7 linked regions of the Homo sapiens genome follow. The protein of the gene in region 2 purifies or fractionates together with the protein of the main gene of each other region. This does not show direct contact. Each region holds a gene or a part of one and is shown on either strand. Other genes may lie near its edges.

Evidence for each region.
Region 1: the proteins of SLC2A7 (region 2) and GNPTG purify together in Homo sapiens (affinity purification with mass spectrometry; one large-scale study listed by BioGRID and IntAct). This does not show direct contact.
Region 3: the proteins of SLC2A7 (region 2) and HS2ST1 purify together in Homo sapiens (affinity purification with mass spectrometry; one large-scale study listed by BioGRID and IntAct). This does not show direct contact.
Region 4: the proteins of SLC2A7 (region 2) and CUX1 purify together in Homo sapiens (affinity purification with mass spectrometry; one large-scale study listed by BioGRID and IntAct). This does not show direct contact.
Region 5: the proteins of SLC2A7 (region 2) and GPR89A purify together in Homo sapiens (affinity purification with mass spectrometry, with the first as the bait; one large-scale study listed by BioGRID). This does not show direct contact.
Region 6: the proteins of SLC2A7 (region 2) and ABCC1 purify together in Homo sapiens (affinity purification with mass spectrometry; one large-scale study listed by BioGRID and IntAct). This does not show direct contact.
Region 7: the proteins of SLC2A7 (region 2) and ST7 purify together in Homo sapiens (affinity purification with mass spectrometry; one large-scale study listed by BioGRID and IntAct). This does not show direct contact.

What each region holds. Positions count from the first base shown.
Region 1 is NC_000016.10:1,354,931-1,358,430, reverse strand, and holds part of GNPTG (N-acetylglucosamine-1-phosphotransferase subunit gamma precursor), read right to left. Parts: intron 1-3,500. UniProt on the Homo sapiens protein: Non-catalytic subunit of the N-acetylglucosamine-1-phosphotransferase complex, an enzyme that catalyzes the formation of mannose 6-phosphate (M6P) markers on high mannose type oligosaccharides in the Golgi apparatus.
Region 2 is NC_000001.11:9,019,924-9,023,423, forward strand, and holds part of SLC2A7 (solute carrier family 2, facilitated glucose transporter member 7), read right to left. Parts: intron 3,156-3,500; coding exon 2,995-3,155; intron 1-2,994. UniProt on the Homo sapiens protein: Probable sugar transporter. Even if its physiological substrate is subject to discussion, it is able to transport glucose and fructose. Does not transport galactose, 2-deoxy-d-glucose and xylose.
Region 3 is NC_000001.11:87,075,135-87,078,634, reverse strand, and holds part of HS2ST1 (heparan sulfate 2-O-sulfotransferase 1), read right to left. Parts: intron 1-3,500. UniProt on the Homo sapiens protein: Catalyzes the transfer of a sulfo group from 3'-phospho-5'-adenylyl sulfate (PAPS) to the 2-OH position of iduronic acid (IdoA) or glucuronic acid (GlcA) within the heparan sulfate (HS) chain and participates in HS biosynthesis.
Region 4 is NC_000007.14:102,198,626-102,202,125, reverse strand, and holds part of CUX1 (Homeobox protein cut-like 1), read right to left. Parts: intron 3,325-3,500; coding exon 3,259-3,324; intron 2,056-3,258; coding exon 1,954-2,055; intron 767-1,953; coding exon 1-766. UniProt on the Homo sapiens protein: May be involved in intra-Golgi retrograde transport.
Region 5 is NC_000001.11:145,614,488-145,617,987, forward strand, and holds part of GPR89A (Golgi pH regulator A), read left to right. Parts: intron 1-1,746; coding exon 1,747-1,806; intron 1,807-3,500. UniProt on the Homo sapiens protein: Voltage-gated channel that enables the transfer of anions such as iodide, chloride, bromide and fluoride which may function in counter-ion conductance and participates in Golgi acidification.
Region 6 is NC_000016.10:16,047,116-16,050,615, reverse strand, and holds part of ABCC1 (multidrug resistance-associated protein 1), read right to left. Parts: intron 2,475-3,500; coding exon 2,313-2,474; intron 1-2,312.
Region 7 is NC_000007.14:117,219,001-117,222,500, reverse strand, and holds part of ST7 (suppressor of tumorigenicity 7 protein), read right to left. Parts: intron 3,418-3,500; coding exon 3,325-3,417; intron 579-3,324; coding exon 439-578; intron 1-438. UniProt on the Homo sapiens protein: May act as a tumor suppressor.

The sequences.
Region 1 (3,500 bases), on a different chromosome or scaffold from region 2:
AGCCTGGGGGACCTTGGGGACACTGTGCCAAGAGGAGTTGGTCAGACACAAAAGGTCGCACACAGTTATGAGTCACCTATGTGACGTCTATGAATAGCCAAGTTCAGAGACAGCAGAATGGTGGGTGCCGGGGCTGGGGGAGCGGGGCAGCTGGGAGTCAGGGTTTGAAGGGGACAGAGCAAGTTGTGGAGATGATGGTGCTGACGGTTGCAGGGCAGTGTCACCAGCGCCTGGGGGAAGAGGGAAGGCGTGCAGCGTCCCTACCCTCCAGCCAGGCCAGCCCCAGGCAGTGCTAGAGCAAGGGCGTGTACACATCAAGGCCAGTGGCAACTCGTGAGTCAAGCCACAGCAGCCACCCTGTTCTTTAAGCTGGGGAGTCGGGACCTGGCTGGGGACGCCACCTTAACACAGCGCCCACCGAGACTGTCAGCCACGGGCCATCCTCCAGGACTGTGGGGAAGGCTGGGGCTTGGGCCGTGGAGGCAGGGAGGGGACTGGCCCCCATCCCCGTCCCCTGAAGGGCCTGCGCTGCAGCAGCAAGTGCACTGGTTAGAGGAGGACGCCCCAGACTGATGTTTCAAACTCTCTGTAGTTTTACCGTATTAATAATAAAGTCGAGGCCAGGCGCGGTGGCTCATGACTGTCATCCCAGCACTGTGGGAGGCCGAGGCGGGCAGATCACGAGGTCAGGAGATCGAGACCGTCCTGGCTAACACGGTGAAACCCCGTCTCTGTTAAAAACACAAAAAATTAGCCGGGCATGGTGGCGGGCGCCTGTAGTCCCAGCTACTCAGGAGGCTGAGGCAGGAGAATGGCGTGAACCCGGGAGGCGGAGCTGGCACTGAGCCGAGATCGCGCCACTGCACTCCAGCCTGGGCGACACAGCACTCCAGCCTGGGCGACACAGCGACACTCGGCTCTAATAATAATAATAATAATAATAATAAAGTCGAAATACACACGAGGTGCTGGGTGACTGTTCCCTGGGAATCTGGCCAGCCCAGGAGCCAGATGCCACACTGGGGCCACCCTCAGCCTGGCCCCCGCCCCCGGAGGGCAGAGGCTAATGCCACTGAGACCTCTGGGGTGCTGGCCCGGCCTGGCCTTCTGTTCCCTGACATTCCACTCACCCCTGGGGCTGTCCCCTCCCAAGACAGATGGAGACCAAGATGGCCAGGCTGCCCTGCTCAGGGGACAGGGGCTGTGGATATAGAAAGGTCCTGGTCCTTCCTTGTCAAATACCATCTGGGTGGCCCCTACTCCCAGGCTCACCCACTGTCCTCCCAGCCTGACCGCTGGGGGCTCTACCTCAGCCCTGTCACACCTGCTGTCCCACAGCCTGGGGTGCTTGGGCTTGGTCCCTCCAGTCTGGCCCTAGGGCCCTGCCCAACAGGCACATAGGGAAGCCTTTGGAGCCATCCCAGAGACCCTGATGTGTCCCTCACCCATCTGCCACTCAGACTCCTGCCCGCAGACCGCCACCCGCACACTCCCGCCCGCAGACCCCCGCCCGCACACTCTCGCCCGCACACTCCCGCCCGCAGACCCCCGCCCGCAGATTCCCGCTCTCACACTCCCGCTGGGAGGGTGGCTGGTCAAGCTCCTGTGTCCTGGGAACTCACGTTCCCAGGCTTGCCCCAGGCAGACACTGCTTGGAGACACCCCAGGAGGGGCGTGGGCGCCGGGCTTAGCTCTGCACCTGCAGGGCCATCCGTCTAAACAGGACTGTGTGAGGGCAGCGGGGCCTGGCCTGGCTCCCCAGCTGGGAGGAGGCCTCTGCCTGGGTGCTGTCCACAGCTTCAGTGGACTCCTACTGGCTGAGGTGCAGCCTCCCGCAGGGGATGGTACCACAAGCCCCCAACTGGCAGTGCCCAGTACCCCAGGTCCTCTGCTGCTGGCCCACACCAGAACCCCGGCCACGGCCCCTCCCCTCCGCCTGGCCCTCAGGTTTCAGCAGCCTGTCCTCCTGAGACAGGTGGGGGCTGGCCCCTCCACGCCTCTTGGGCCAGACACAGCCATACCTGAGCGGGAGTCTCTACCCCCAAATACCACCACCCCCAAATGCCACCACCCCTGCCGGGAGGCTTCTCCTCTGCTCCTGCTTCACCCGCACGTCCCCTGCAGGCTCCGTGTTCACGGCCTGCATGGCCAGGACACTCGCCGGTGCCCTTGGCTCCCGCGGGCCCAGGTGGCCTTACTGCCAGCTGTCCCTGCACCCGAGGCCACAGCTCAAGGCCCATCAGCTTGGCTGAGCCTGGACTCCGTTTCCCCTCTGCCCCGGTCAGGCTTCGGTGGGCAGCACTCCCCCTAGGGCTGCGTCTCTTGGTGACAATCCCTTCTCAAGGGTGGTCCTCCCTCCCACGCTGCTCCCTGGCCCGGCCCCACACCTGGTCCCAGTACCCTCCCAACCTCCACAACCCCCACACGCCACCAAGAACTTCACCGGGGACCTCACCCTCACCCTCCGGCCTCACGCACCCCCTGGTGAGTCCTGTGCCCACCGTGACCCTCTCCAAGCACCAGGGACTGCCTGGCAGACCCAGCCCGGCCCCAGCCGAAAGCAAGCTCCCAGCCTGACCCCTGCAACTCACATGCTGGGAGCCGCACTTGCCATGGCTTCTCTAGCCAGGATCCCGGGGCCACTCTACTCCTCCCCCGCCCCCTCCCCAGATCCAGGACCCTGCCAAGGCCCCAGAGTCCTGCCCAGCTGGCCGCTCCCTCCCACCGCCACCGAGGCAGAGCTCCCTCCTGGACAGTGTGCTGGGCTATGCTGGACTCTGCTGGGCGCTGGCAGGACCACCACACTGACCGTGCCCCATTCCCTCTCCATGCCACAGCGGGACACTGTCTCCAAATCACAGACCTACCAACCTCTGCTCCTCCTGCTGTCAAGGGACGAGGCTCCCGACTCATCTGGTGGAGGCCATGGAGCTGCCCACTGCCCAGCCCAGCCCCACCAGCCTCGGCCCTGGCAAGCCCACCCCTTCCTTCTCCTTGGCAGACACTCTTCTGCGGGGACCTTCTGAGCCCTAGGCCACAATCACCACGCCCCTGAGTTTCTCAGCCTGATTATCTTTCTGCTCAGCTCATTCCACAGACCACACTCTCCTACCCACTGCACACAATCCGCCTCACACGTTGATGTTGAAGGAGCGCTACATCAAAGACAGAAAAAACAAGTAGAATATCCACACCCGACCCCACAGACGCAGGAGAGGATCCACACCCGACCCCACAGACGCGGGAGACGATCCACACCCGACCCCACAGACGCGGGAGACCATCCACACCCGACCCCGCAGAGGCGGGAGACCATCCACACCCGACCCCGCAGACGCGGGAGACCATCCACACCCGACCCCGCAGACGCGGCAGACCATCCACACCCGACCCCGCACATGCGGGAGACGATCCACGCCCCACCCCGCAGATGCGGGGGAGTATCCAGGCCCCACCCCACAGACGCGGGGGACTTTCCACGCCCGGCCCCACCCCACAGA
Region 2 (3,500 bases):
AAAAAAAAGAAAAAGAAAAAGAAAAAAGACACAGCCAGAAGAAAGCTGTCTGCAAGCCAGAAAGAAGGCCCTCACCAGGAAACAGATCTGCTGGTACCTTGATCTTGAATTTCTATCCTGCAGAACTGTGAGAAGATAAATGTCTGTTGTTTAAGTCTGTGGTTGTAGCAGCCTGAACTGATTAAGACAGATGGGAAGAAGGGGCGAATGGGCAGACGTCCCAGGAAGGAAGACTTGGGGTCAGTGGGGGTAGAAGCTGGGGAGGGGAGCATTCTAACGATCGGAGCTGCCTGCAAAGGGGAGGGCAGGAACAAAGAATGGGCTGTCCCAGGAGGTAGAGAGCTTCCCATCACTGGTGGTATTCAAGCTGTCGCTGGTGGTTTCTAGACTAGACACGATGACTGTCAGGAACGTTGAACAGGGAATTCTTACAATCAGTGGGGTGCAGAATGGGACTACATGATTTCTAAGATCCCTTCCAAGGCTGAAAAACCACAAGCCTGAGAAGGAGAGGGAGTGCCTGAAAAACAGCGCTATGCCAGGTGCGTCCTGCTGCCTTCATGATCCACTCATCTGCTTGACTCTGTGCTCTAGGTCCCCTGCCAACTTGCAGCAATGGCTCCTGTGCCCCCCCCCACCCCCCCGCCTTTGGCTTGGGTTTTGCACAGGAGAAGAATGGGCAGTGGACCAGAAAGAGGGCAGAGAGCTCCCGAGCTGTGGGGTTGCTGGCTGGTGCATCCTGATATTCTCTCTTTTTTTTTTTTTTGAGATGGAGTCTTGCTCTGTCGCCCAGGCTAGAGTGCAATGGTGGGATCTTGGCTCACTGAAACCTCCGTGATATGGTTTGGCTGTGTCCTCACCCAAATCTCATCTTAAATTCCCACATGTGTGGGAGGGACCTGGTGGCAGGTCTTCCCAGTGCTGTTCTCGTGATAGTGAATAAGTCTCACCAGGTCTGATGGTTTTATAAGGAAGAGTATTTCTGCACAAGCTCTCTCTTTGCCTGCTGCCATTCATGGAAGATGTAACTTGCCCCTCCTTTGCCTTCCGCCATGATTGTGAGGCTTTCCCAGCCACGTGGAACTGTGAGTCCATTAAACCTCTTTCTTTTGTAAATTGCCTAGTCTCGGGTATGTCTTTATCAGCAGCGTGAAAATGGACTAATACACTCCGCCTCCCGGGTTCAAGCAATTCTCTTGCCTCAGCTTCCCAAGTAGCTGGGATTACAGGCATGCGCCACCATGCCCAGCTAATTTTTGTATTTTTAGTAGAGATGGAGTTTCACCATGTTGGCCTGGCTGGTCTCGAACTCTTAGCCTGAAGTGATTGGCTCACCTCAGCCTCCCAAAGTGCTGGGATTACTGGCGCGAGCCCCCGTGCCCAGCCTGGTATTCATTTTTTATTTCTTCTCTCTCCACCTCCAGGTGGAGGTGCTCCCTCCTCACACCCCTACAGGTCTGGGGGTGATGAAGCTGTCAGCAGCCCCAGGACTACCTTTGTGATTGTCTCACACTTTGCACACATCTTTGAGGACCGCTGGGACCCTGAGTGAGTGCACTCAGTGAGGAAGCCAGGAAGGCGAGGTTCTGGTGCCAAGAGCAGGGAGTGGGTGGTGAGGACTCTATGAAGATATCCCAGGTCGGCAACACTGAGGACTGGCCAGGGAGTCCACAGACAAGCAGGCTGGTGTTCTCAGGCCACTTTTCTCTCCCTGGGGCTGCCACAGCCTTCAGGAGCAGCCACCAGAGCACATCCCCCATCACGGGGAGGGTCAGCCAGCCAGGAGGCCCAAAAAGACTAAGCAGCCCCGACACGTTCCCACCCTTCTCTGGACTCCCAGCCCTTCCTGATGACTATAAGGGGAGGCTGGGGCTGTCAGGACCCCACTGGGCAAGGCTGGCACCACCACATTCCTGGACTCAGGCTCTTCATCTGGAAAATGGGTTCAGACAAGGAAGTGGAGGCCAAGACTGGGCTTCCAGAACAGTCCAAACACTCTTGGTCTGGCTGAGAACATCACAGTCTGGATGACCAAAAAAAAAAGCTTGAATTATGGTATAGTTACATTAGAGTGAATTGTTTCTTCTTTCCAGCGCATAATGTATGGCAAATTAATTGTCGATCAAGTATATGCAAGAAGAGGTCCTATGAATCTTGCATTAATTAATAGATAATTAATTTTCAATCAGCGCTATTTTTTTCTATGCCTGAAAATGGAATTGCTCTGGTTTTTTGAGTGACTTTTCACTAGAGGGCCTTCCAGTCACTCCTGCAAGCTGTCTAACCTGGCACACCATGCCCAAGTGTAACTGTGAGTCCGAATGAGTGGGCTGACCTAAGGGAATGCCACCAGGCCTCATCCTGAGCCCAGGCTCACGCTTTGCCCTCCTGGGAACCTTGGCCTGTGCATCTTTCCTTATCTGTGGAGTCACGTCTTTGGAGCACCTGGGCTTAGGAAGAATGATTAGTGAATCTGTGTAAGCCAAGCAAAGTTCAAAGACCTGCCCAGTCTTCATTTCCAAATAATCTCGTATCTATGAGACAGTGGCCGGCAGCGTGACTCAGCCTGACCCCAGCCTCAGTAACAAACTCTGGCAAAGACACGCGGGGAGAGGCTGCAGCGCTTAGAACTTGGAGCCATGGTCACCTGACCCCGGAATGAAACCTGATAAACGAGCATTTACTGAACACCCACTGGAAGTGCTTACAAGGCACTAAGCTAAGCACCGTCAAGAACCTTGATCTCAAAGGCTGCACCACCTCTGTGGCAGGTGACGGAAGGGAATGCTTTTCCCATGCAACTACCTAGGAAAGAAATCCCAGAGACATTTAGGGACTGGTTTAAGGTCATGATGACTGTGGCCAAGCGGAGACTAGACTTCAGATCTCCTGATTTTCAGGGTCACACGTCTCCCCACCAGGTGCACAAATGCCCAGAGACAGTGTGGCTTACTAGCATGAATTTTAAGTGGGAGCAGTGCACCTTCTGTTTACCTGCCGCAGCTATCAACCAGCAGGCCCACGAGCAATGACCCCAACAGGCCGCCCAGAGGAAACATGGAGACGGTGCAAGACCATAGAAGCAGCATGAGCTTCCCGTCCATGAATGTTGCGTGTCGCTCAAAGTAGGTTTCGTTGTAAAATGACTTGAAGACCTGGAAAACATTGCCCCATCCACAGCTAAGAATATTGGGCAGTTCATGAGAAATGAGAAAGTGTTCTCAGTGGCCACTTGTCATTGTACAGAGAGGTTTTTCTGCTAACACCTATAAGACACAGTTAAACCCACTGATTCCCTACTATTACCTGAGAATCAAAAAATCTACTATATGATGGGTTGAAATGAGAAACTAGGCTGAACAAAAAGATTGTTACAAAATCACTGTTAAAAAATTTACTTTTGGCCGGACGCAGTGGCTCACGCCCGTAATCCCGGCACTTTGGGAGGTTGAGGCGGGCAGATCATGAAGTCAGGAGATCGAGACCACCCTGGCTAACAC
Region 3 (3,500 bases), about 78 Mb from region 2:
TCAATTGAAGTTAAGGAGACTGAAGACACTGAAAACTCTGGCTTGGGGAGAAGAAATAAGGCCACTACAGTGACTTTAGTCATAGAAAATTTTCATACTCTGACTGAAATATGCTACCAAGAAGAATGTTTCAGATGTAGTAGTCAGATATAGTACATGAAACGCAGCTAGCCTGAAGCAGAGTGTAAACCGTGATTTTTGTTGGATTTGATGACTCAAGTCAGGCTAGCAAGTAATAAGAAGAGACCTTAAGGAAAAACACAAACAATATAGGTAATGGTGTTGGGGTTTTTTGTTAGTTGAATCAGACCTAAACTGATGTTACAGGAAAAAGCTAAGAAGCACCCTTCTCACTAACAGTAGTGTCTTGACCTATATTCTTAATAGATCAACCTCAATATTATGATTATCTGTGATAACAAAAGCATTTGTTTTCACTATCTAAAAGAGCAGGAATGTCATCCTGAACATTCTGGCCAAATTCCAACTCTGTAATTACTATCTGTTGAATGAATGCTACTATTAACTTGAGTAATTACTATCTACCAAACTCCCACTCATGCATTTACTTAAACATTTCTTGTATGGCTGTGGGTACTTTTATGAGACTAAGCCAGGGAGAAAGTTTTCTACACTCACAGGAAAACAAAGTAGTGGTTGGATAAAAATATAAGAAAAGTTTGCAGTAATTGAACATATCTTCACTGAAGTTCAGAGCTGTGCTGTTCAACCTGTTTTAGGAGTGTAGGGCAGGGGGCTGGTTCCCAATCCACCTGAGAGATAAGAATAGATCATACTGCTGTCAATCAGAGGTGCTCACTCTGCCAGTAATTATTATCATCTACCGCTATCAAAATCTATGTTGGTCCATTTGTTCATTCATTCATCATTTATTTAACAAAAAATGTATAGTTTCTACTATGTCTCAGGCACTATTCTAAACATAAGGGATATAGTAGTGAACAAGACAGACAAGGTTCCTATCCTTAAAGATCTTATAATAGAGGAAAAGACAGGCAGTAAACAAACCAATATATAAGATAAGTTAGTAAGCTGATTAGTACCAGAGAAGACACAACAAGAGTGATACAGTACACAGTAACTTAGAAGAGGTAATTAATATGTAGGATGGCCAGGCATGGTTTTTCTAAGAGGATGTCATTAAACCTTAAATGGATAACATGAAGCCAACTCTGGAAGAAGCCAGGAGAAGTGCATTCTAAGAGGAAAGGATAAGTGCGGAGGCCTTAAAATGGGAAAGGCTTGGCGTATTCAATGAAACACAAGGCCAGTGTGGCTAGTGGGTAAGAAGTTGGTGCACACAAGGGCTAGATTAAAAAGGGCCTCTTGGTCTATGTAAGAAATGTGGATTTTGTAGGGGAGGTAGGAATAACAATTTAAAGATAAGTACCCTACCATCCTGGGAAGACTAAAGTATTCATCTTCCCATATCCCTACTGAGAATCATCATCTGTATCTTTGTTACTCAAACTGCAGTTTAAAGACCAGCGGCATTAATTTTGGCATCCAGTGGGAGTTGTTTAAAAATTGAAAACTGGGCTCCATCTTGGTCCTTCTGAATCTGAATCTGCATTTTAACCAGTGATTAGCATACACATTATAGGTGGAGAAAATTCATCTAAAGTGCTGCTCTGAAAAGTATCTGCAACTCCTGGTGAACTGTGGGCTCTAACGCAGATAACCTAAAGTTGGCTTGAGAGTGAATTTCAAAAAGAAAAAAATTCATGTTGTTCTTCAGAGAATACAAATTCTAGGTATTTCCAATGTTTTAACAAAAGGGGTTATATATAATCATAGACCTAAACATATGAGAGCAAAAAAGAATTCTTTTTTTGAAAAATCATAAAAGATGTGGCTAATCACATATATGGTATGGCTAAACACATGACAGCAAAGCAAACTCCATTTTTCAACTAGAAGAGTTGATTGATTACCTATCTCTTGCCAATTCCTCTCTATTAACTAAGTAAAGCCCATCGCAAAAATGTATCTTTAATGACTGAGTCCACACCTTATTCTAATTGCTTAGTTTCTCATACCTTATATTCTCAAATGTTTATCTTTTAATATCCTTCTTTTAACTTTTCAACTTTTTTATTTAAAAAAATTTCTAAACTACAGAAAAGATGAAAAAATAGGACAGTGAACATCTCTATACTCTTCACCTAGATTCACTAATTATTAACATTTTGTCACTTTTATCTTTTTTCTCTATGTATGCACATACATACTCAATTTTTTCTGACCTATTTGAAAGCAAATAGTTGTCATTCATATTTAACCCCTAATTACCTCAGCATGTACTATGTCTATGAACAAAGATATCATTTTTGATCAAGGATCTGATCACAGACCATACATTACATTTGGTTTCCATGTCTCTCTAGTCTAGAGAAGCCTCCCTCCAACTTTTTTGGTTGTTATGATACTGACACTTTAGAAGTCAGTTGTTCTGTAGAATATTCTACATTAATTTGTTTTCTCGGGATTAGGTCCAAATCAAACATTTTGGTAGGGAACACTTTTGGTTAAATATTTCAGTGAGATCACCACAAATTGATGTTTTATTTTAACTGTTTTCATAGCCCCTGTGTTTATGTTTTATGTTCCCAAGTAAATTTTAAATAAGCTCCTTCAAGGATGTGGCCATGCTTTCTATTTCTTTGTTATTTCCCCAAAGAATGTAGTACAACCTTTGTGTATATTACATACACAACAAATAAATGAAAAACTCAAAAGCAGAGTTGACAACTATTTCTAAGGATAGCAGAATATATATAACTATTATACATTGAGTGGTTTTATACCAGACTAAAAATATTTGGGCTTTGCCTCTAAAATTTTTGAGACAAATAATTAAGCAGGTAAACAGTTTAGAACAATACCTAATATAGTATGTACAAAAAATGTCTAGGAAAGCTGGGGCTAAAGGCAGATATCAAGCAGACTGAACTAAGATTGGAAGGTGAGGGAATAAAGAGGATGGTCAGGTAACATATCTCAAAATATTTTTATGAGTAAACTGAGCTTTACACGGAAGCTGGAGACAACAGATTTAAGAAAGATCTCATCTTTTAAGTTGTACTTGATTAGAAACTATTTCTTAGAGAAGAAAAAAGAGCAAAATAGTTCATTTAATTCTTATTTAAGCAGCTGAGAGGCCAGGCGCCTGTAATCCCAGCACTTTGGGAGGCCTAGGTGGGCGGATCACCTGAGGTCAGGAGTTTGTGACCAGCCTGACTAACACGGTGAGACTCTGTCTCTACTAAAAATACAAAAATTAGCTGGGCGTGGTGGCGCATGCCTATAATCCTCGCTACTTGGGAGGCTGAGGCAGAATTGCTTGAACGTGGGAGGCAGAGGTTGCAATGAGCCGAGATCGCACCATTGCACTCCAGCCTGGGAAGCAAGAGCAAAACCCTGTCTCCAAAAAAAAAAAAAAAAAAAAAAAAGGTAGCTGAGAACAGTACACAGAGACA
Region 4 (3,500 bases), on a different chromosome or scaffold from region 2:
ACCTCCTGGTACATGTAGACCTCGTACTGCTCGGGGGTCAGCGGGGGGACCGAGGGCTTGGTGGGCTTGGACATGGGCACGATCGGGGAGGATGGCAGGGGGCTGTTCTGTGGTGTCTCGCTGCGGCTGGCCCCGGTCAGACTCAGCTCTGAGCTCTGGGAGTATGGGGACTCAGCGCTGGGCCACTCCTTCCAGTACTCTGACGACGAGGGTCCCTGGAGCTGACTGCGCTCGGCCCGAGGCTGGCTGCCACCTCCGCTGCCACCGCTGCCCTTCTCTTTCCCGCCGCCCGTTTCTTCGGCCTTGGCCTCCTCGGAGGAGGCGGCATTTCTTCTCTCCGGCTGCACCGCGCTCCACCAGTGGTCCTTCCAGGCACCGCTGCGGCCCACCTCATTTTTCACCTGTCTCAGGACCCCTTGTGCACAATCGGCTGCTCCCTGGGGGTCCAGCCCGGGGGCGTCCTGGGCCTCCTTTTTGAGGGCCGGGGGGTTCGGCAGAGCAGAGGCACCGGCCTCAGGAGCTGCGGAGGGCTTCTTCAGGGAGATGGCGAGAGGTGGGTAGCTGGACACGGTGGGCATGGGCGAGGTGGACAGAAGCTTGGGGGTGAGGATGGTGATGTCACTCTGGGACAGTGGTGCCTGCTTTAAGGCAGGGTCGAGGGCAGCCTGCTGGGCCTCCATCTCCCGGCGGGCTTGCTGCAGGATGGAGCGGATGGCGTCATCAGAGTTCCCGCTGCCGGATGCGGAGGAAGGCTGGGCCGGCTCTGCTGCATGGAGAAACAGGGGTGAGAGTGTGGCAGGGCGGCCCCCTTCAGCTGGGGACATGCTTCTCATCCTAACTTGACCTACTGCAAAGTGTGGGTTATTTGGGAGAACCACACTGTGTATTTCCCCAGCATGGCCCCTGTCAGTGAAACATTCAGGCATCTTGTCTCAACCAAGGACCAGGGCCTGACACTACAGCTTGATGACCTGGTGGCCTTTGGTATACACACAGATGTAGAGGGTAATAAAGGGGGTGTCAGTGAAAGTGCTCCCCGACCTGCCCTCCTGGGGCTCCTTTCCCCGAGAATTTTTTTTTTTTTTTTTTTTTTTTTTTTTAGCGACAGGATCTCGCTGTTGTCCAGGCTGGAGCGCAGTGGCACGATCACGGCTCACTGTACCCACCCTCCACCTCCCTGGCTCAAGCAATCCTCCCAGCTCAGCCTCCCAAGTAGCTGGGACCACAGGTGCATGCCACCATGCCTGGCTAGTGTTTTAAGAGACAAGGTCTCTCACTGTGTTGCATAGGCTGGTCTTAAACTCCTGAACTCAAGTCATCCTCCCCCATCAGCTTCCCAAAATGCCAGGATTGCAGGTGTGAGCCACCGCGCCTGACCTCTGATAATTTTTATACTTGGTATTCATTTTCCTGTGCTATATTCTGAAATGCAAGTGGTTCTGTCAAAGTTAAGGAGCGTAATTTCTGTGAATAATTACAACTAGGGGCCAGGCGCGGTGGCTCACACCTGTAATCCCAGCACCGTGGGAGGCCGAGGTGGGAGGATCACTGGAGGTCAGGAGTTCGAGACCAGCCTGGCCGACATGGTAAAACCCCGTCTCTACTAAAAACACAAATATCATGGGCATGGTGGCACATGTCTATAGTCCCAGCTACTCGGGAGACTGAGGCAGGAGAATCGCTTAAACCCGGGAGGCAGAGGTTGCAGTGAGCTGAGATCGTGCCACTGCACTCCAGCACAGGCAACAGAGAGAGACTGCATCTCAAAAAAAAAGGTAACTATTAGGCAAATACAGATCACACAGACCTGCTTCTCTCTACGTGCCTAAATGCTTGAGAACAGGCATTCATTATTGTTTAAAAAAAAAATAGTTAATTACTGCTGACCAGAGCACTCATGACAATTCTCTTAATTAAGTTTGAAGACAGTGGATGAAGAAATGGAAGCTGTACCAGTTTTCTGCACTTGGAGCTCCCTCTTGGCTTGCTCTAGGATGGACTTGATGGCTTCATCAGAGCCAGTCTCCGAGGCTCGGATCCGGGTGGTGATGTTACCTGTGGGGAGAAGTTGCGCCAATGACATCAAACCCAAACCCCGGACAAAAATCAGCGCTGCGCGAAGACGTCATTCTGATATATAGCCCCGGGTGGGGGCTGGTGACACAAGGAGGCAGATGTGGCCTCCCAGTGGCCTGTGTTTGCTGTGAGTGCAACTTCACAGCGACACCGGGCAGGAGGGATTTCCTGCTCATTTGACCTTACGGTCAATGTTACTCTGCCAAAGCCGGACACCACCCGTGGGTTAGTACCCGGGAGAACCGATCATTTAATCCATATATATAAAAGGCGAGTGATTAAAAGGCAATGTTTCTCATGAGTCACTTAGAAGCAACTGCTGTGGCTTGGGACTGACTCTCCTCGGGGTTAGATGTTTATTGGATGCTGGGGTCCCACACAGGATAAACGGAAAAGGAGGGCAGAGGGTTTGAGGCTGATTGTCTATCAATCATTCAGAGGCACAGGGTGAAGAAAGGCTTAACTTAAAAAATTGTTTGCACCTATTATCACATAATATCTTTTTAAAATTTACATACGAGGAAAGGAGCCTGCAGAAATTCCTAAGTGGGGAGGATGGATTCTTTCGGCCACATGGTGATGTTTTGTGCAGGCACACGTGCCGACGAAATGAGGCTACTATGGCCCAGGGGCTGGCCCCAGCTCTTTCGGGAAGCCACCCGGATAGTTTAATTTCTTACTACCTTCCTAAATAGGAACCACTGCATTCAAAACAAGTATACCACCATTTAAAAACAAGTATGCCACCGGGACGATGTGGGATGCGTCCGTTCCATAGGACCTTGAGTGTGTTTCCGAGTTAAAAATACGAGGAAGCAGCAGTATTTAATTTGACGGGTCACCTGACTTTTCTCAGAGCAACCGCTGTTATTTTTTCAACTGCGTCTGAGAAAAACGGGGGACCGGGTAATTAGGATCTGAAGTGGGCTGGGATTCAGACTCGGGGGGCTTAGCTTAGCAATGCCTCTTCTCACCCCCGCCTGTGCTTGGGAGAGGGCAGGCAGCTCGGGAGGAAGGGGCTGGGTGTGCTTGAACCCGTGCCTTGTTTTATACTTACTAGCTGTTTTTCCATCAGGTTCCAGGCCAGAATCACACTGCACAGTTTTAACCCAAATACACAGCTAAGGACATGCTGCTTCCCTAGGTGACTGACTGCAAAGAAAACGCCTGCCTGCAACATACCTTCAGACCCATTTCTTCGTTTCGGTACTTCCTGAAATAGTCTGTTCAGGCTCTGGCCTGGATTCTCTGTTGAAAAACAAGTGTGGTAAGAACAAAACAATCAGGGGAATGGTGGTGTTGACGATATGGGCTGTGTGACATGAAATCTGAGCCGCCTGTCACTAAAGAAAGGGCTCAGGGCTGCCTGTGCAACTCGGGAGTTTCTAGAATCTTCTGAGAGGCCCTTCCCTGGCTGACCGGCC
Region 5 (3,500 bases), about 140 Mb from region 2:
TGAATGCTGAAGAATAAACCATCTTTTATGTAGACCACTTAGCCATTCAGCAAGCACTTATGGAGAGCCTGCTACGTACCAGGCTTTGTGCTGGATGCCAAGGATACAAAGATTACAAGACAAACATGGTTTTTGTCCTCATAGAGCTTATAATCTAATGTCAAAAAATATTTAAATCACACATTACAAAACTGTATGGTAAGCACTTTGATGAGGGAAGTACAATGTAAAACAGGATTATATAAAAAGCAATTTATCTGCATTTGGGAGGGCAGAGAGGGCCTTCCAGGGGGAGTAAATAGCATAACTGGGAGAGGGCTAGAGAGAAGTTCCTTTCAGAGGACATCTACACAGGTCTCGATGTGAAAGAATATGGATCTAAAGAACCAAAGAAGTTCCAGGGGGCTGAACACATGAGTTTGCTAGGCAGCAGGGGCATGATAAGAAGCTAAAGTAGTCTGTGCTAAACTACTGAGTTTACACTTGCTCAGTAAAGTAGTCCCTAGAAAGACATAAAATCATTTTATTCATAAAGGTCCTAGCCAGTTTAAGAAGAAAAGAGTAGTTGTGTCAGTGTGTATGTATAGAAAGTTCTGTTTACTACAGACCAGCTTTATCAGCTGTCATGTGGCTACGGTCTCTGCCAGTTTGAAACAAAACTGACGAAAGAGGGATCCTGCAATCTCTCGGCTTTACATTGAGATGAAAACCACTTTTATGTAGATTAGGCAGGATGGTGGAGAAGCTAAGAAAACTCTCTGAAGGAAACAGATATAAAAAATATTAGGCTTTCTACTACTCCTCTAATTTTGGTCTCAACTCCTCTCCCCTGAAGTTTTTATTTTTTAAATTAATTTATTTTTATTTATTTTTTGAGACAGGGTCTCACTCTGTTGCCCAGGCTGGAGCGCAGTGGTGCAATCATGGCTCACTGCAGCCTCAACTTCCTAGGCTCAGGTGATCTTCCCACCTCAGCCTCCCAGGTGGCTGGGACTACAGGCACACCCCACCACCCCCAGCTAATTTTTATGTGTGTGTGTTTTTTGTAGAGACGGGTTTTCACCATGTTGGCCAGGCTGGTATTATTTTTAAATACTTGCAATCAGGGATCATCCATAAGAAGCAAGTCTCACTCTGACACCTTTTCTTTTTTTTCGAGACCTAGTCTCACTCTATCACCCAGGCTGGAATGCAGTGGCACGATATTGGCTCTCTGCAACCTCTGCCTCCCAGATTCAAGCGATTCTCATGCCTCAGCCTTTGGAGTAGCTGGGAATACAGGTGCCCACACCCAGCTAATTTTTGTATTTTCAGTAGAGACGGAGCTTTGCCATGTTGGCCAGACTGGTCTTGAACTCCTGGCTTCAGGTGATCTGCCCACCTTGTCCTCCCAAAGTGCTGGGATTACAAGTGTGAGGCACCGTGCCTGGCCACTGACTCCTTTTCTATTTGCAAACTTCTCTGGCTCATATAATGATTATCATAAGATTATGGCAAAATATGTACTTCCATTTTTGTCTTAAAGCATACTCTGTAACATGGATAACTTCAAAACTCCAAGGGCATTTAAAAATTTATTTCCAATGTCATGAGCTTTAATAATAGGTCTTATAAGAGTGGATCTTATCTTTAATCCCTGAAATAAGTTAACCGTCTAGTTAGCAGACCTTTTATCATAAAAGAGTTTCTATAAAACATTTCTCAAAAGAAAATATGTATTGACATTCTATTTTCTTTCTCCTCCAGATACTATTTTTTGGATTTGGGTGGCTTTTCTTCATGCGCCAATTGTTTAAAGACTATGAGGTGAGAAGAAATCATTTTGTCATACTTACACTATATGATTTAGATTGACAAGAAAAATGTCTCCATTAAAGAAACATTATGTTCATTTCCAAGATAGGAAGCTTTTACCAAATAAGTACTATATAACTATTAGATTGCAGAATATAAGTAGACTTAATTGATTTAAAAGGGGGGAAAAAAGGCAAATCAAATATAGCCCAGAAGTTAGGAGCAAGGATTATGTCTTAGTCATATCAGGATATGTACCAATAGCAAATAGTTATTCTGTAGGAGAGAATTTAATTCATAATGTCTCACAAATGTTCCCTTTCATTTGTCTATCTGGCCCTGAATTGCAAACCTTATATTATAAGTTAATACCAAAATCCCAAGGCTATCAGGGGAACCAGTCCCCAATATTTCAACATAGGTTCTTTCTGTTTTCCTTAAGTGTCGGCCGGTCTGAGAAATAAAGAGAAAGAGTACAAAGAGAGAAATTTTACAGCTGGGCCTCCAGGAGTGCCATCACATATTGGTAGGACCGTGATGGTGACTCCGAGCCACAAAACCAGCAAGTTTTTATTAGGGATTTCAAAAGGGGAGGGAGTGTACGAATAGGGAGTGGGTCACAGAGATCACATGCTGCAAAGGGCAGTAAAATCACAAAGCAGAGGCAAAAATTAGAATTACTGATGAGGGTCTGTGTCCCACTGTGCACACATTGTCTTTATAAACATTTTAACAGGAAATAGGGTTCAAGAGCAGACAACCAGTCTGACTAGAATTTACCAGGCTGGAATTTCCCAATCCTAGTAAGTCTGAGGGCACTGTAGGAGACCAGGGTGTATTTTAGTCCTATCTCAACCGCATAAGACAGACACTCCCAGAGCGGCCATTCATAGACCTCTCTCCCAGAATGCATTCCTTCCCCAGGGTTATTCCTTGCTGGAAAAAGAATTCAGCAGTATTTCTCCTACTCGCTTTCTGCAAGAAGAAGAGTATGACTCTATTCTGCCCAACCCCGCAAGCAGTCAGACCTTATGGTTATCTTTCCGTGTTCCCTGAAAATTGCTGTTATTCTGTTCTTTTTCAGGGTGCACTAATTTCATATTGTTCAAACACACATGTTTTTCAAACAATTTGTACAGTTAACGCAATCATCACAGGGTACTGAGGTGACATACATCCTCAGTTTACAAAGATGACGGGATTAAGAGATTAAAGTAAGACAGTCATAAGAAATTTAAAAAGTATTAATTTGGGGAACTAATAAATGTCCATGAAATCTTCACAATTTATGTTCAGAGATTGCAGTAAAGACAGGTGTAAGAAATTATAAAAGTATTAATTTTGGGAACTAATAAATGTCCATGAAACAATTTATGTTCTTCTGCTGCGGCTTCAGCCAGTCCCTCCATTCGGGGTCCCTGACTTCCCGCAACACAAGGCTGGTGTTGTTTTTATCTTAAGCTTTGGATTCAGAAGATCACCACCCTAGACTCGACATTTCCTAGTTAGTTCTCCTAATTAGTAATAAGATCAGTGGTTATAGTCTACATTTGGGTCATTTCTAGGATATTCTCCATTAAACTTTCCCAGGGAGTTTATTGTCTGAAAGAGCCTGGGATTCTGGAGATTTTCTTCTGCCCAATACTTTAAGACCTCCCGAGGAAGGTTCCAGAACTGATCCAGGATCTGCAGAGTGTTGAAGAACC
Region 6 (3,500 bases), on a different chromosome or scaffold from region 2:
CTGTACCCAGCCTATTAGACAATTAAATTCTGGTGTTTTTTCTGAGTTTTATTATTAGAAACACTTTACTCACCTTCTGCTCTACAAATGTACAAAAAAAAACCAAACTACAGCCAAATAAACCAGTAATTTTTTCTTCTTCCTTTTTCTTTTTTTTGAGACAGAGTCTCGCTCTGTTGCCCAAGCTGGTATGCAGTGGTACAAACTCAGCTCAATACAACCTCCGCCTCCCGGATTCAGGCCATTCTCCTGCCTCAGCCACCCAAGTAGTTGAGATTATAGGCATACACCACCATGCCTGACTAATGTTTATATTTTTAGTAGAGACGGGGTTTTGCCATGTTGGCCAGGCTGCTCTCCTGGCCTCAGATGATCCACCCGCCTTGGCCTCCCAAAGTGTTCAGATCACAAGCATGAGCCATTTCGTCCAGCCCTTCTCTTTCAATAACAGATAATAATTTGAGCTGTGCCCATTATGCATCAGGCCCTGCTGGGGTTGTACCCACAGAAGACACAAAAGTCAGCTGCTATATGTCTGCAAGTAGCTAACATGTTACCCTTCAAAGAGGAGGCAGTACACTGAGCATGCAAAAAAAACAAAACAAAACTATTTCAGGGAGTGGGCTGGGCACGGTGGCTCACGCCTGTAATTCCAACACTTTGGGAGACCACAGAGGGTAGATCACCTGAGGCCAGGAGTTCAAGATCAGCCTAGCCAACATGATCAAACACTGTCTCTACTAAAAATACAAAAAAAAAAGAAAATTTAATGGGCGTGGTGGTGTAAGCCTGTAGTCCCAGCTACTCGGGAGACTGAGGTAGGAGAATTGCTTGAAGCTGGGAGGCAGAGGTTGCAGCGAGCCAAGATGGCACACCACACTCCAGCCTGGGCAACAGAGCGCGACTCCATGTCAAAACAAAAACAAAACAAAAAAAACTATTTCAGAAAGTATTATTAGATGAGTTCCTATACTAAAGTTATTGGGACTCAAAATTCAAAAGAAGAAGTCCATCTAATTGAGAAGGGAGGGTAAATCAATGGAAGTAGTGTTTGTTACAGCCTTGGGGGATGAGCAGGCTTTCATCAATTAGGAAGAAGGAAGGAAAGGTACGTGGCAAAGATCCAGAGGTAGCAAAGCACAAGGCATGTGTTGTGCTATGAGCCTCTTTGCTTATCATTTTATTTTGGGAACTCTCCCTCTCCACATGGAAGGGCTGTCAATCACATCTCTTCTGCCATGGGAGAGGACATGTGACCCAGGCTGGCCAATGAGAGAACTCTGCCTCCTGGGCCACAGTGATTGGTTCACGGGTGTGAATAGGACCAAGCCAGGCTAATCAGAGTGCTCTCTGAGACTGACTCTGGCTGTGCAGAGAAATGCTGCCTTGTCTTTTCTCTGGCACCTTTATCTATCAGGATGTTATCAGCCCAAAGCTACGGAGCCATGTAGGGAAGTACCACTGAGAATGATGTTAACTCAGAGGACAACAGGGCAGTGGGTGAAACTGAGTACTGACAACATTGCTTGATCTCCTGGATCAATCCACACCTGAAGCTAGTCCCCAGATTTCTGAGATACATGCAGCCCCAAAGTTCCCTCTATTTACTTAGGCTACTTTTTTTTTTTTTTGGAATTGGAGTTTCACTCTTGTTGCCCAGGCTGGAGTGCAATGGCCCAATCTCGGCTCACCGCAACCTCCGCCTTCCAGGTTCAAGCAATTCTCCTGTCTCAGCCTCCCAGGTAGCTGGCATTACAGGCATACACCACCACGCCCAGCTCATTTTGTATTTTTAGTAGAGACGGGGTTTCTCCACGTTGAGGCTGGTCTCGAACTCCTGATCTCAGGTGATCTGCCCGCCTCGGCCTCCCAAAGTGCTGGGATTACAGGCGTGAGCCTCTGCAACCGGCCACTTAGGCTACTTTAAGACAGATTTATATCCCTTGCAATTGAGAGAATTTTGACCACCATAATTAGGGACTAATGAATAAGTGAGTCTGGTTAGCGTTTGGGAGGATTCAAGGGGAGAAATATGATGTGTCGTCCATTGTAGGGTAGTTAATTACTGACACTGTCAAGGAAAAGAGAAAATGAAAACGCCATGCCACCAAGGAGAACATCAACCTGACAATTCAGGAAAGGAACAAAATACTGAGGAATTGGTTAACAGGCTGGAAAATAAAATATGAACCACAGCCGGAACTGCCAGGGAGCTCTACATGCCATTACCATCAACACCCACTCCCTCGGCCCACTGCCCACACGTAGAAGTCCCTCCCTGCATGCAAAGGGAAACGGCGTTAAACACACACCAGCCACAGGAGGTAGAGAGCAAGGATGACTTGCAGGGGGGCTGACCAGATCATGTTAATGTACGTGGCCAAGTCCATGAACCTCTGAGCGTCCACAGACATGAGGTTGACAATCTCCCCGACCGTGGAGGATTTTCTGGCTGAATTGGTGATCACCAGGGCCTGTGGGACAAAGGAGAGGGAAGGTGGGTGAGTGTGGCAGCTGAAGAGGCCTGACTCTCCCTCCAGACCCACGGAGAGGAAGGAGACTCTCAGGGGCAGAAATGCCGCAGATCTCTCCTCCTCCCCTCCCGACCTATCTGTCTGCCCAGGACGCCTGTGTCATCTCAAAGCCCACATTCTTATCCGCGGTGCTCAGTGCCTCCCAACCTTGAACTCATCAGTTGGCAAGGGACCCTAGGTGTCCTCGAAACCAGGGCTTCGCATGCTTTAATGTGCACACATGCGGCCGGGTTTTTCTGGGGGGAGTGGTGGGGGGTGGGGGGAGTTGTTTTGGATTCTGCAAGTCTGGGGTGTGGCCTGGGATTCTGCATTTCTACGCTTCCAGGCTGTGTCAGTGCTACTGGTCCCAGATCCCACTGAAGGACTGAGGGTGTGGGCCAGGGTCTCTAATCCTTGGCATTCTTGACATCTGGAGCCAGATAATTCTTTGGGGGGCTGTCCTGCGCACTGTAGGAGTTTTAGCAGCAATACCTGGCCTCGACCCACTACATGCCCTCGCCCCCAGTTGGGACAACCGAAAATGCCCCCAGATATTGCCAAACGTGCCCTGGTGGGGGAAAATGTCCCTAGCCCTCAAACATGATTGCACACTATCACCTCGTGAGTTTTAAAAACACTAAGACATTAGCAGGCGTGGTGATGCATGCCTCTGGGCCCAGCTACGTGGTGGGCTGAGGTGGCAGGATCGTTTGAGCCCAGGAGGTGGAGGCTGCAGTGAGCCAAGATCATGCCACTGCACTCTAGCCTGGGTGACAGAGCGAGACCCTGTCTCAAAACATAAAAATAAATAAAAAACAAAAACAATGACACCTGGGTGCCACCACAGCAATCGCAATTTCACTGGTCTGGTGCAACCTAGGTGTCAGGAAGTTTTTTTGTTTTTTCAGACAGGGTCTCATTCTGTCACACAGGCCGGAATGCAGGGATGCTATCAGGACTCACTGCAGCCTCCAACTCCGGGGCTGA
Region 7 (3,500 bases), on a different chromosome or scaffold from region 2:
AAGGGTTTGCAGCCATTAAAAAAAATTATTTAAATCATCTTTGAAAATGTAAATCTCATCCTTCACTAAGGAAAGACCCACAATATCCAACGATTGGAAATAATGTCATTCAATTTACAGAAAACCGAGTAACTTCCCACACATTTTCATTTGCTAGGATTTCCTAAATCATTCCATCCTTTTGGACCTCCTGCATTTTTTGGAAACTGCTAAGAATTTGTTGTGAAATGAGGCAAGGCATGCAGTAACAACCTGCACTTTCTCATTTGACCCTTAATGCTTTGATTCCATTGACGATCATGAAAATTAAATGGTGAGCAATGATCTTTGCAGGCTCGTACCCATTTCTGTAAGGCAACCCCATTTCTCTCACGCTGCTTTTATGCCCTTGGCTTTCCCCATCCATTCCCCAAGGCCTCCCTCTAGGCAAACACTCACAGCTTTTGCGAAGACCCCCATAAGTTCCGGGAACTGATGTGTCAGGAGGGCCAGCATGGCTGTGAAGGAACATAATCCAGCAGTAAAGAGAATAAAGAAGGGAAGCTCCTTCTTTGGGTAAACTGAGACTTCATGGAAAGCTGTGGAGAAGACCAAAAGGGAAATATCAGGGCTGGAGTAAACTGCACTCTCAGGGGAGGTCTTTATGGTGGCACTGACTCCAGAGCTTGGGAAAGAGTTGGAAGCCTATGGGAAATGAAAAAATAGCACACCTGACAAACCATAGCCAACATCTGACCCAGCCTTTGGAGGCCCATCTGCTGGTCGCAAGTCTCCATCCAGCCTTCAGCACTCTAAATTGAGGCAGGAGGGGGCTGATTTGAGGGTGTCACGCCTTCATGGGAGGGAAGAGGAGCACCGCCTATGCCTAATGTATAGTATTTTTTTCTCAAAAGCAAACACAGCTGAAACAATTTGTAATTTACTCAAATTACAAAACACGTGTTCATTGTACAAAACCTGGAAAATCCAAAACCGAGTATACAGGGAAAAAAGGTATCCCGTCTATATTTTTTCCTTCCTGTATTTAAAAAATCATTATAATGAGATGATACTAGTTTCTCCTGTATTTTTTCCTGGCACCCTCTAAGTATATCAGTGGAGGGTGCCACCCTCATAGAGAGATATCCAGCAAGGACCTCACATGTAGGTCTATTCAAACTGCAAGGAGGGAAGGTCAAGACTGCTAGGGTTATCTGGCACAATTGTAAGAGACTCTTGATGACAAATACACTTCCAACAATCATCAAAAAAACAAGAAAAGCTGGTGCTCTTTAGAGTGCCCTCTATAATTTTTATATTATATTTCAAACATTGGGTTTGGGAAAACCAAAAAGCTGTGGTACAGAGGTCAAGAGAATCGCCTCCTTCTCTGTGCTCATGATGAGGCTGCCTGAGAGACTGCCTGGGTCGATGGGGCGGGCCTGCAGGAGGAGAAAGAGCCACCTGCTGGGGGTGCTGGGGGAGAGGCTGTGAAACTGCACGTGAGAAACAGCCCACTCTAACCAAGAGGACCAGAGGGCTCCATGGTCCTCAGGGAATACAAGATCTAGAGGCCTTTCCTCTACCATTCAGCTCCTATTCCTCAGAGTCTTCAACAGTAATCCACAAGGCTAATACTGAGGGTGGAGGGAATCCAGGAGGAACTCCATGCAGACGAATATGCCTACTACATCCAGGTAGGTCAGCCTGCTGGGATTCAAACACACGGAACAAGTGTGCTCAGGGCCTCGTGTGGCTATAATTATACTTTTAATGTGCAAATTATGGGTAGCACTTAAAACAACCTACCTTCTTCATATCCTCACCCTTAACATCCAACCAAAAAAGATTTTGGAGGGAGACCAGACTTGGAGCACTGCATTCAATTAATGTGAGCCATAATTTCCTATTTCAGGCTTATAAAGATTATCCCTATAAGGTTTCTCTTAAGAACTGTAATCTTGTTCTAATAACTAATCTATCCCCATGGAAACTTAATTGGACTCGATTAAAACATTTAAAAATACTGTACTTTTCAGAAAACTGCCTTTCTTACCAGAAAACCGAAACTTAACAAGGATCTCCCTGAAGGGGGAGTTGAAAGGTAAACTATGGGCCCACGGTGAGGATTTCTGAAATCAAATCTAATGTGTGAGGTACCAGACTCTTTTCACAATCAAACTCGAACGGTGAGAAACACATCACGGGGATCTCCCAGTTCCCTGAGTAACAAATCTCGCACTGGGTCTGGCTGGCAGGAAGGCAAGTGAGCAACTCCTGCTACCTCAATCTGATGACAGCCATTGAGTTCTGCACCCAGATCCCACCATGCTGGAGATTCATGACTGGCTTGATGATGCTGGTGTTTGGAAATTTACTATGCACCCAGGGCTCTAAGGTTACACTGTTCCTCTGGGGAAAGTACTTATATGTTACAGCTATAAGATATTGATATAACTGGGGCTGGTGAAAGGGCAGAGATGGCAGGAGAGAGGACAGAGAAGGGAGAAGAGCTAAAATTTGGAGCTTATTATCTGAGGGAGAAAAATATATCCTAAGTCTGGGCCACATGAAGAGCCTGACATGATCCTTGTACATAGTATGATTTGATAATAACCATTTAGCCTGAATTGTCAAAACAATGTTGTATTACAGCAAAGCAAAATAATATTTTCCACATGTGGTATGGGTCATTAGACTGCTAGCAAGTGTAAGGTAGTCGAGGGCAGGGTTTTCTTTTGTGTGCTTTCATACAGTGCTGAGGCTACACGTGTGCTCTGCACATGGTACTCCGAGTCACTACATGCAACCCACGAGGTGCTCACGGGAAATCCCTCTTGCCAGAGCACAGCCTCACCACACAGCACACTGCCCTGCCCCACAACTCCACATCTGGCCATGGTGCCAGCTTCCTGGTGCTGGCCTCCCACCCATGACTCATGCGCAGCTCCCTCTCAGTCAGCAGCTCCTCTTCAAACTCCGGTCGGTGCAGACCACATCTGTCCAGCTGAAGAGCCCAGGCAGAACCCTCACAATGGACCAGCCCAGCAGACACCAGCCCAAACCAGGGGTCTCTGTGCTCAGGCCAATCAGTACATAGGGTTTCTTCAGCTACATTTCAATCCTTTGGCATCTTTCCCTTTGATAAATTTGGAGAGACTTGGAGGAAAAGGAAGCCAAACCCACTCACATAATTCACTTTAATACATATGCTATCAAACAAGGACAGGGGTTTGGAGAAAAGTAATAAAAGACAAGGAGCATTCTAAACTTTGATATTCCCACCTCTTCCAATCCCCACCTTTCACCACACACCCTCACTGGCTGAAGAGAGGTGAGACTTACATGGAAGCAGCTCTCGGTCTGCTGTTTCTGTACAGATTGGGTAAGGATAAAATAGGTGCCCCTTTTCCAAGGGATAAGGGATCATCCGAAAAGCTGAAAACGAGAAAAAATATGTCAGAGATGTCCAATGTTTGTGTCATAACTTCCCAACTGCAAAAAGGGGCGTTTGAGCATTT